Regions from separate parts of the Homo sapiens genome. Here all the other regions are linked to region 2. The links come from fine-mapping of genetic effects on gene expression. A gene starts in region 2. Each other region holds a variant in brackets. All regions are shown on one strand. Distances are from middle to middle. Region 1 overlaps TMEM63C (transmembrane protein 63C). Region 2 holds the start of TMEM63C (transmembrane protein 63C). Region 3 overlaps TMEM63C (transmembrane protein 63C). Region 4 overlaps TMEM63C (transmembrane protein 63C).

Evidence for each region.
Region 1: its variant is fine-mapped to the expression of TMEM63C in whole blood (TOPMed, PIP 0.95).
Region 3: its variant is fine-mapped to the expression of TMEM63C in whole blood (INTERVAL, PIP 0.98).
Region 4: its variant is fine-mapped to the expression of TMEM63C in prefrontal cortex (GTEx, PIP 0.94).

Annotation. Positions count from the first base shown.
Region 1 is chr14:77,235,801-77,238,405 of GRCh38, forward strand. TMEM63C (transmembrane protein 63C) reads left to right here. Exons shown (of 24, transcript NM_020431.4): 9 at 824-932. Among named protein-coding and RNA genes, the nearest start is that of MIR1260A, 29 kb to the right of the region's middle. The variant C/T (reference allele first, on the strand shown) is at 1,137.
Region 2 is chr14:77,180,430-77,183,034 of GRCh38, forward strand. It overlaps TMEM63C (transmembrane protein 63C), which reads left to right and starts at 1,369. Exons shown (of 24, transcript NM_020431.4): 1 at 1,369-1,465. RefSeq lists an enhancer at 1,690-1,819.
Region 3 is chr14:77,226,240-77,228,844 of GRCh38, forward strand. All of the region lies in intron 6 of TMEM63C (transmembrane protein 63C), which reads left to right. Among named protein-coding and RNA genes, the nearest start is that of MIR1260A, 39 kb to the right of the region's middle. The variant C/T (reference allele first, on the strand shown) is at 1,420.
Region 4 is chr14:77,231,550-77,234,154 of GRCh38, forward strand. It overlaps TMEM63C (transmembrane protein 63C), which reads left to right. Exons shown (of 24, transcript NM_020431.4): 7 at 39-181; 8 at 1,903-1,951. Among named protein-coding and RNA genes, the nearest start is that of MIR1260A, 33 kb to the right of the region's middle. The variant A/G (reference allele first, on the strand shown) is at 1,387.

The DNA.
Region 1 (2,605 bases), 55 kb after region 2:
AGACTGGTGGGTGGGGGGTATGAGGAGACTGTGGTGGGTGGGGGGTATGGGGAGACTGTGGTGGGTGGGGGGGTATGGGGAGACTGTGATGGGTGGGAGGGAGCAGGGAGCCCTAGGAGACTGTGATGGGTGGGGGAGGTGTCCAGGGGGACTGCGGTGGGTGGTGGCCTGGGGAGATGGTGATGGGTGGGGGGGTCTGGGGAGACTGTGATGGGTGGGGAGTCTAGGGAGACTGTGATGGGTGGGGGTCTGGGGAGACTGTGGTGGGTGGGGGGTATGGGGAGACTGCGATGGGTGGGGGCATGGGGAGACTGTGATGGTAGGGGGAGTCTAGGGAGACTGTGATGGGTGGGGGTCTGGGGAGACTGTGGTGGGTGGGGGGTATGGGGAGTCTGTAATGGATGGGGGTATGGGGAGACTGTGATGGGTGGGGGTATGGGGAGACTGTGGTGGGTGGGGGGTATGGGGAGACTGGTGGGTGGGGGGTATAGGGAGACTGTGATGGGTGGGGGTATGGGGAGACTGTGATGGGTGGGGGTATGGGCAGACTGTGGTGGGTGGGGGGTATGGGCAGACTGGTGGGGGGGTATGGGGAGACTGTGATGGTAGGGGGAGTCTAGGGAGACTGTGATGGGTGGGGGTGGGGGATACTGTAATGGGTTGGGGTCTGGGGAGACTTGGATGGTTGTGGGGGTCTGAGGAGACTGTGATGGGCTGGGGGGCCCCAGGAGACTGAGGGTAGGAGGAGGCCCAGGGGTCTCTGTGCAGTGGGCTCTGGGGAGCTCACAGGCTGACCTCACTGCTGCTGCCTCCCTCCCTGCAGGAGCAAGCTCCTGTGGCTGCATAGCCTGCTGTCCTTCTTCTACTTCATCACCAACTTCATGTTCATGGCTCATCACTGCCTGGGGTTTGCACCCAGGAATAGCCAAAAGGTAAGTAGCCTACAAAGCTGCTTCCCACTGTGGGAAGCTGGGGTCCCTCCCCACTGGGCTGACCACTTCCAACCCTCAGAGAAGCCCTCAGAGGGTCCAGGGAGACTGTGATAGATGGGAGGGGGCGGTTTCACCTGAGCAGGGGCCAAGCTTCCTCCCTTCAGTCCTAGTAACAATCACCTGGCCCCCACCTCTCACCCTTCT[C/T]CACCCTCTCACCCTCCTCCACGCTGCTCCACCCTCTCACGCTCCTCCACCCTCTCACCCTCCTCCACGCTGCTCCACCCTCTCACGCTCCTCCACCCTCTCACCCTCTCACCCTCCATCCTCTCACCCCTAATGAAACTTTCAGACTGGTTGGTAAATAGCTGCTGCCCAGGTACCTCCTATCCCTGCCCCTCTGCTGCCCCGCCCCTCCCCAGGGACTCTTGGACTTCCCACCATCTGAAAACTAAAGGATTAACAAGGCCCAGTGGACCAGCGGGGGCCTCCATGCTAAGTGGTCTGGGCCCTGCTGAGCTGCTGCTACTTAGTGTACCTGGCCCTGCCCACCCCTGCTAGGCCCGTGCCTCGCCCTTCTGCAGTCTCTCGGAGATCAGAGACCCCCGTGTATCCCCACCGTCTCAGTTTGGGTGACCCCATCCAAGCAGACCCTGAGACTTGGAATGAGTAGCGCTTGTTTATGGGAGGTGATCCCAGGAAAGGCCAGTAAGGGAGTGAGGATGCAAAGGCAACCAAAAAAAGGGAGCATGGAGGGGCAACTTACCCCTGTGGGCAAGTGGAGCTTCATGACCAGGGAACTCTGGGAGCTGGTGTAGAGCACATGCCCCAGAATTTTCCTGGAGGTGAGCAATCGTGGGTATTTTCCACCAGCTCCCTGTCCACCGTTCATTGAGGGTTGCGCTTGGGGGCTTTAACTCCTCCCCTACTTGGCCCTGCACAAAAGCTGAACATGCCCCAAGGCCGGGAAAGAGCAGTCGCAGTATTTGAAGCATGCTGCAGGTGTTGGTGTGCAGAGATGACTGACGGGGGGCCACGGGCAGGCACCAGCAGTGCCACCCATCTGGACCAGCACCCATGCTCTGCTGGGGATGGGCAAGAGTGAGGAGCATCCTTAGTTCCCGTCCTCAGCCTTTCAAAGGTTCAGTGGTGTGGAATCAGCTCCTTCCAGGCCGTCCATTCAAAAGGACTGATTCACTTGAACCCACCCCAGAGTGCAAATCCACATTCCCTGAAAAGTGAACCCAAATGCTTCAGCCTGCCAGGCATGGAGGCTTGGTCACCCTTGACCAGTCTGGTGTCTGCTACTTCAGCTTTCCTTCTTGTCACCAGAAGCCTCTTTCAAGACCCCTGATTCTTGCAGCACAATTACCAGACTGTCATCTTAAAGGTGACGACCCAGGAAGATATTTCCCATTCACAGAATAAAGTGTGAAGTTTAGGGAAGCTTCCCTACCCTCTCCCCAGAGTCTTGTTTACTTCCCAACTCCCCGGCCCAGTCTCACGTGAGGGATTTCCCTAGAGATGTGAGGCTTTACGCTGGAACAGTGGAAGCTACAGGGAGAGCAGAAATCACTGTGGGGTCGCTCTGGCAGCTCTTTCCAATCATGGAGCTCTGATCCTCCACCCCAGCCTGATGGCAGCTTTCCAGTCCTTCCTCCCTTCACCACAGCAGT
Region 2 (2,605 bases):
TGGGAGGCTGAGGCGGGCGAATCACGAGGTCAGGAGATCGAGACAATTCTGGCTAACGCGGTGAAACCCCGTCTCTACTAAAAAATACAAAAAAAAAAAATTATCCGGGCGTGGTGGCGGGAGCTTGTAGTCCCAGCTACTCGGGAGGCTGAGGCAGGAGAATGGCGTGAACCTGGGAGGCGGAGCTTGCAGTGAGCCGAGATCACACCACTGCACTCCAGCCTGGGCGAGTGAGTGGATAATGGATAGACTTCGACAGAGTCTGTCTATGTGGCTCACCCTTGGGTCTTCGTGGGGTGGTTGGGTCATGAGAACCAGGGGGTCAGGGGAAGAGGGAGATGACTAGAGTGCGCCAGCCTGATACGGTTGTGTGGAAGGGGGTGCTGTGCTGCTGGTTATGGGGAAATCAACCCATGAAAGCATAACCAGCCTTTGACCCCCTCCTCTGGCACCTCATGACCTTGTGTTCACAGGGCTTCCTCTATGGCATTCTTATCATATTGTTAACAGCCCTAACTGGTGAAAGGGAGTCACTTTCAGAGAGCATTGGGCAGTGGCTTCTTTCCCATCAGCTATTGTACTGCAAGTGCCAGATAATGTCGATGACATAAATGTGCCTAGGCCCCTGCCTGGGAGGGAGAGGCTGTTTACTACTGCCCCTTGTTTTGCACACTGGTCTTTGGGGGTTGCAAACACTGGCACCTGTCCTCGGGGTCAAAACCAGTGTCTATAGCAGAGTGGGCAGGACTTTGATGAAACTCTGATACCTGCAGGATTGTGGCCCACCGCAAACCGGAAATGACCCAGCTCACTCCCTTGGCCCTCCCTGGTGGGGCTGTGGCCAATTGTAGATCACTCCTTTGCTGTAGAAGGAGTCTGGGTAGCAGCTGGGTACCAGCCACTAGGCTGGTGCCAGGACCTGGTCCTTGGGCGGGGCAGAGGGCTATCTTTGTGGGAGTGGAGTGGCTTTTCTTGCTTCTGGCTGATGGGACTAAGGAGACTGGGAAAGGCGACATGCCTCAGGGAGGGCGAGGGGAGGTGGCAAAGGAGCTGCCAAGGCCCAATGCATCAGGGCAGCTGGAGCAAGCTGGAACCAGGGACCGGCAGCCTTGTGTGTTTGAGATAGTAATTTGCAGATGGTTCCTGGTAGCGACAGGGTCTCTGAGGCGGAGCCTGGGTCTTCGCGTAGGATCTGCCAGCCTGGGTTCCCCGGCAGGTCAGAGAAGCTTTGGGGCGGGGCCAAGGTTGGCCCCTGCTTGGGAGGAGCCGGGATGCCTCTCTCACAGTGATGCAGAGAGGAATTTGCTGACAGTCCCTTGCCAGGTGGGGCTGGCTTCGCCCAGCCGGCGAGGAGGAGGACCCGCTGGCAGTCTCCTCCCAGGTGGGGAGCGTGGAGCCTGTCACTGCAGCCTGGCGGCCTGAGCGCCGAGCCTGGGGCTGGGGCCGCGGTGCTGAGGACGCAAATGTGGTGAGCACGCGATGCGGGTGCGGTGACCGGGGCTGGTCGGGCCGGGAAGAAGGGGCGCCGGATCCAGGTCCCGCACGGGGAGGGGGCGGGGAAGGATTGCTTGTTTCTGTGCTTTCTGAGACCTTGCATTGGGAGGGATGGGGGTAGGGGAGACTGCGCCACAGTCCCTTGCCACGCTGGCTGTCTCTAGCTTGTACCCAGGAAAGGGTGGCCTGAGCCGCCCACCCGGGAGGGCGTGGCTTTAGTAGACCGGTCTTCACTGGGTTGGGGGAACGGAGGTGGGTAGGAGGTTTGCTTGGGGGGTCCCCGGCCTCCTGCCTGACAGCCAGGTGGGAGTTACCGCTCGGGGCTACCCTCTCCCCCACCCAGGGATTCCCCGGGGCTCTGCCGCCCACTCTCTGGGCTGGGACGGGAGGGGGCAGTCTGCTCCGCCGTTATGGGTTATGACAACGTCACTGCTGCGCTGCTGCCTGGCGGGCTGGGCTCCTGGGCCCCCAGGGGAACAATGCCACCCTTTCCCCATGTGCTTCCAAAGAAAGGCTCTTGCCTCCCTACTCGCCCTGGCCTTGAGAGAGGAACGTTGTGTTTGGATGAAGGCCCTGGGGAAACTGAGGCCCAGGGGTGCTGTGGCTTGACCAAGGTCACTGAGCAGGCCCTACAGAGCTGGCCTCCCAGGCACTGCCTTCACCGAATGCCCTCTGGAGGGGCAGGGGCCCTTCTTCCTCTCTAGACCCCAGGACCTCCCCCCACCCCAGCACCCCATTTCCTCATCCCTGAGAATGCAGGGAGTTGCAACTTCCGCATGGGGCTCCAGGGTATCATGGGTGTAAGCAGCAATTAGATTGTCTGGGGACAGGAGAAAATTGCTCATGAAAAACACCTAAGTGAGCAGAGGGGGTGTGAGCGTGTGCTGTTCTTGTGGGTTCAAGGAAAGAATGAGAGTTGGCTTTGAGGAGAGGAAGGCCCGTGCTGATGGGAATGAGGAGATGAACTTTCTCCTTCAACAGCCTGCAGCGCTCCAGGAAGATGTGTTTTCCCTCAAGAAAGGGTCCATCTCTTAGCACCACCCTCTGTTATCACCTTATCCTTGTTCTCTCTCCGGCCCCTGTCCCTGGGAGAAATGGGCTACATTCCGTC
Region 3 (2,605 bases), 46 kb after region 2:
CACCCCACCCCTACCCAAAGACTCCTATCACAGAGGCCCCTCTGTCAGGGACCCAGCATCTGGGAAAGCAGGAAGGCAGGGCATTGCACCGTGCATCCAGCAGCTCTTGAGAGCAGTGTCATAGAAGACAGCTTAATGCGTTTACTGAGCAGCAATAAGTCAAGTAGCGTCCCCGTGCACAAACCCATGCGGTCTGGTTGGAGAAACAAAGGTGAACAAGACTCCCTTCGTAGCATTCAGAATGGGAGGGTTATAATTGCTGTGCAGACGGCATGTGGGGAAGAGAGAAATTAATTCCAACTGGAAAAGTATAGTTTTGAGCTGGGCATTGGAGGACAGGAAGAGTTTCGACAGGCGCGATGTGGGATGTGGAGGGCACATCAGAAGTAAAGGACCGTGTGAGCCAGTTTGTTGCAGAGATGAGTAGGGTGTGCACAGACATGGTAAATCTGGTGTGACTAGAAGCAAGGTTTCATGGTAAGTGTGGCGGGGGAGGGTAAAAGATTGGGCTGGAAGGATCAGTTGGGATTTTTTTTTTTTTTTTTTTGAGACAGAATATCTCTCTGTCACCAGGGTGATGTGCAGTGGCACAATCTCAGCTCACTGCAACCTCCGCCTCCTGGGTTCAAGCAATTCTCCTGCCTCAGCCTCCCGAGTAGCTGGGATTAGAGGCACGTGCCACCATGTCCAGCTAATTTTTGTATTTTTAGTAGAGACGGGGTTTCACCATGTTGGCCAGGCTGGCCTCAAACTCCTGACCTGAGGTGATCCACCTGCCTCAGTCTCTTAAAGTGCTGGGATTACAGGCATGAGCCACCGCACTGGGCCTCAGCTGGGACCTTGGCTGGCATACTGAGAATCTTGGGCTTTCATCTAGAGACAGTAGAGAGCCAATTAGTATTTTTAAGCTGGAAACTCAGAACAATATATGTGTGTAGGCAGAAGTATGGAGAGTGAATGGCATTAGAGAAAGTCCAAAGTCAAGGTGAGCAGTTAAGGAGGCTATTCCAATGGTCGAGGTGGGAGGTGCTAGTGACCTGAACCGGGGCAGTGACTAGAGAAACAATGGGAGGGGAAGATGGGAGGGAGATCATAAGGCTACAGTCAGTAGGTTGTGGCCTAGTTAAGAAAGAGGGAGAAATTGAGGTCTGGTTTCTGGGGAGGGTAGTAATGCCATTAGGTGGGAGAGGAAACACAAAATGATGAGATGTAGTCAGGGCAAGTATGCAAGCTGACAAAGGAGCTGTTGAAAAAACAAGATTGAAGCCTAGGAGAAAGGTCAGAGTTAGAGATTTCAACTTGGGAGATGGTGCATGGAGGCTGTAGTTGAAGTCATGGGAGCAGATGGGTCATCCAAGGATGTAAGACCAGAAGCGGCCCAAGGGAGTGCCTCATCGAGGCGGGAGGAAGAGGCATCCT[C/T]TGGGCTGGACTCAGTGAAGCCAGGCCAGGACAAGGCTCCCCTCTAGGGTGGGGCGACCCAGAAACCTCTAGTGCTACAGAGGTGGAGTAGAATGGGGGTTGAGGAAAGGACATTGACTTTGGTGAGTTGGGTCTCTGTTGGGAGGGCAGGCCGAGGATAGGATGTCCAAGACACAGAGGCAGAGAAGGAAGGTCACCTTTTTCCAGAGGTGCATGGAAGGAGGGAAGTGAAGCTACTGGAAGGAGGAGGGAAAACAGGTCAGGGAACAGATCAGAGAGTGGATCCTTGAGGAGCTGTTTTATTACAGAGGAACCAACAAGCACTTGAGCCTGGTTGTAGTTTACAGGGAAGAGGTGTGGGTGGACGCAGGTGCATGCAGAGAGAGGAGGATGCCGAAGATGAGAGAGCAGAACAATGGATCCAGCACGTCTTCAGAAAGAGGTGGAAGGAAGGGAAGCAATGAGAGCAGAGACAGAGAATTAATTGTGAGTAGGAAGAAGGGCGATTGGCTGGAAGGTCAGGGTGGGGCACTTACAAGAAAGATGGAGAAAGGAAACAGGCCTAGTGGTGGAGGCAGGAATTCCTGGCCCAGGAAGAGAATTCTAGTGCTCTCAGTGCCATCCAGTCCTGTCCAGCCCTCTGCTCTCTCCACCTGATTGGAGGCTCCTGGACCTCACCCCGCCTCAGGCAGTGCAAGAGGACCTTCCCCCGCTCTCCAGAAGTTCTCATCCATTCCACTTCTGGCATTTCATTCTCAAGTCCAGGGAGGGAAACGTTTAGCCGCTCAAAGTTAAAAAATCAAGAGCTCTAAATAATTCCTCAAATGAGAACATTGAAAACCTTGAAGGTGTGCCTTTTGTAGTATTGTTTAAAAATAAATCTTTTTTTTTTTTTTAAGACGGAGTCTCACTCTGTCGCCCAGGCTGGAGGGCAGTGGTACGATCTCAGCTCACTGCAACCTCCGCCTCCCACGTTCAAACAATTTTCCTGCCTCAGCCTCCCAAGTAGCTGGGATTACAGGCACGTGCCACCATGCCTGGCTAATTTTTATATTTTTAGTAGAGACAGGGCTTCACCACGTTGGCCAGGCTGGTCTTGAACTCCTGATCTCAAGTGATCTGCCCATCTTGGCCCCCCAAAGTGCTGGGATTACAGGCATAAGCCACTGCACCCGGCCTTAAAAAT
Region 4 (2,605 bases), 51 kb after region 2:
GCTCCTGAGGCACGTCCTTGTCTGTGTGTCTCTTCCAGGGACGAGGATCTGATTAACAAGTGTGGGGACGACGCGCGCATCTACATCGTGTTCCAGTACCACCTCATCATCTTTGTGCTCATCATCTGTATCCCCTCCCTGGGCATCATTTTGCCCATCAACTATACTGGATCTGTTCTGGGTAGGCAAAGCTCAGCTGGCCCTGGGGCAGCAGCTGGACCTGAGAGGCAGCCAGGCAAGCCAGTCAGGGCTGGGGTTGAGGGTCTAGACATCTATTTTAATCCTGCCTCTGGGAGTTTGTTGTTGTGTGAACTTGAACAAACCATGCTTCGCTTCTCTCATGTGGAGACTGGAGACGATTCCTCCTTTGTCACAGGTTTGGCCCAGAGCCTGACACACAGCAGGCACATAGTATTAATTCAGTTTGGAACTGAGTGTTCATTCATGGCCCCACTCTGGCTGGGCGTTCCTGGAGACCCTTTTGTGACATGTGACCCACTGCAAAGATCCCTGAACCCACTCTGTTGGACATAACACCATAGGTGCAGAATTTGTCTTGTAGGACCTCTACTCCCACTCATTGGAACAGGGTGAGCCCTTTGGAGGGAACAGCATTGTGGATGAGACCTTGGCTTCTAAAACAGAAAAATCATGGCTCCACAATGTTTACCCACACCTGCTCCCCAGAAAATACCTTTGCCTAGCTAATATGTTATTTTATTTTATATTTTATTTATTTATTTATTTAATTTATTGAGACAGAGTTTTGCTATTGTTGCCCAGGCTGGAGTGCAATGGCGCGATCTCAGCTCACTGCAACCTCTGCCTCCTGGGTTCAAGTGATTCTCCTGCCTCAGCCTCCTGAGTAGCTGGGATTACAGGCACCCGCCTCCACACCCGGCTAATTTTTGTATTTTTAGTAGAGACGGGTTTTCACCATGTTGGCCAGGCTGGTCTCAAACTCCTTACCTCCAGTGATCCGCCCGCCTTGGCCTCCTAAAATGCTGAGATTACAGGCATGAGCCACCGCACCTGGCCACTAACATGTGATTTAACCTTGTATATGGCAAATCAGTCTCCCGAGCTTTACTTTCCTCAACTGTCTTAGGGATTGGGAGATCACATGCCACATACCTATACAGTGTTTGATATACATAGTAGGTGCTCAATGAATAGCAGCTAGTATTTCATTTAGAATCATGAAGCTGAATGGAGCTGTATGAAGACTGTACAACTGGGTGGTGCAGAATAGCACCGTAAATGCCCCAGGGGCAACCAGCTTTCCCCTGATTCCTCAGGTTTCTACCTGTTCATCCTTGGCCAGAGGTAGACCTTAATTAATTCAGTTTAGCACACTGAGTGTCCATGCCACCAAATGCCACTACT[A/G]GAGTAATATCTGAGTCTTGTCTCATCCCAAGAGCTGGTATGTTGGCAGTGATAATATCATGCAGGATTTTTAGACACATTTTATAAGGGGGTGTCTGAACCGTCAAACTAATGCACATAGCCAGAAGGATTTCCTCTGAATGAGGCAGTGTTGCCTTTTCTGGACGTTGCCAGTGGTAATAGTGTTGCTAATTTCATCATTCTGCTCGTGGCTGGATGGCTGGTGCCTCCAACAAGCATTCACTGGGTGTCCATTATGTGCCAATTATGCCCTGGAGATACCACACAAAGAAGTGTTCTCGCTTTCCTCCCGAGAGCCCCAGTCAGCAGTGCCAGGGAAAAGAGGCCTCTGATGTCTTTGTTAAAAGTTGGGGAGAAGCTCTGGGGAACCAGAAGGAAGAGGAGGTCAAAGGCAAGCATCTCCAGACCCCACGCATTTGTCCAGGAACCTTGAATTCTGGCGCCCCCAGCAACTGAGGAGCCAGGCTCGAGGTCAGCAACTTCTTTCTCTTTCAGACTGGAGCAGTCACTTTGCTCGGACCACCATTGTCAATGTCTCCACAGAGTAGGTACCTGATCTTAACCTCCCATTCCATTGGCTGGGGGTGTTGGTGTGGAGAGGAGGTCTAACATGTCAGTTTGCAACATGGGCAGCGTTTTGCTGATAAGAAAGGCCTGGTTTCCCTGGGAATCGGGTCCTGAGTGAGATGCCAGAAGCTGCATCCTCTTGGTGGGGCAGGACTCTTGGTGTGAGATGAGGCCCTGTGTCCTCATCTGTCATGAGTGGAGCTGCCCAAACTGGCCACTCATGAAGACGTGGAGAAATGGTCCTATTTGCTTAGTGTACCCAGATCCCAAGAGGCAGAGACCATGTGCTGAAAGAGATTGAAGATTGTTTTCCTGCCACCAATAGGTTCCAGTCAGCCGTCATATACCCGAGTGAATCATGTGCCTGACAGTCCCCCTCAGAGTCCCACAGCAGACTCGTGCCCCACCTCTGCCATTAACTGGCCCTAGGTCTGAAGCAGTGCACCCCCAACACTGAGCTTCAGTCCTTATTCATGTCCATCATTGGGGAAGAGCTGGTGGACATGCTCTCTAAGCTCCTTCCCCTCACAGGCCAAGAACCTGTGGGTTTCAACTTCAGCCAACCTGACTGGAGGCCATATCAATTTGCCCCGAGCCAAATGTGGCCCCGTTGGTCCATGCCATGGCCCAG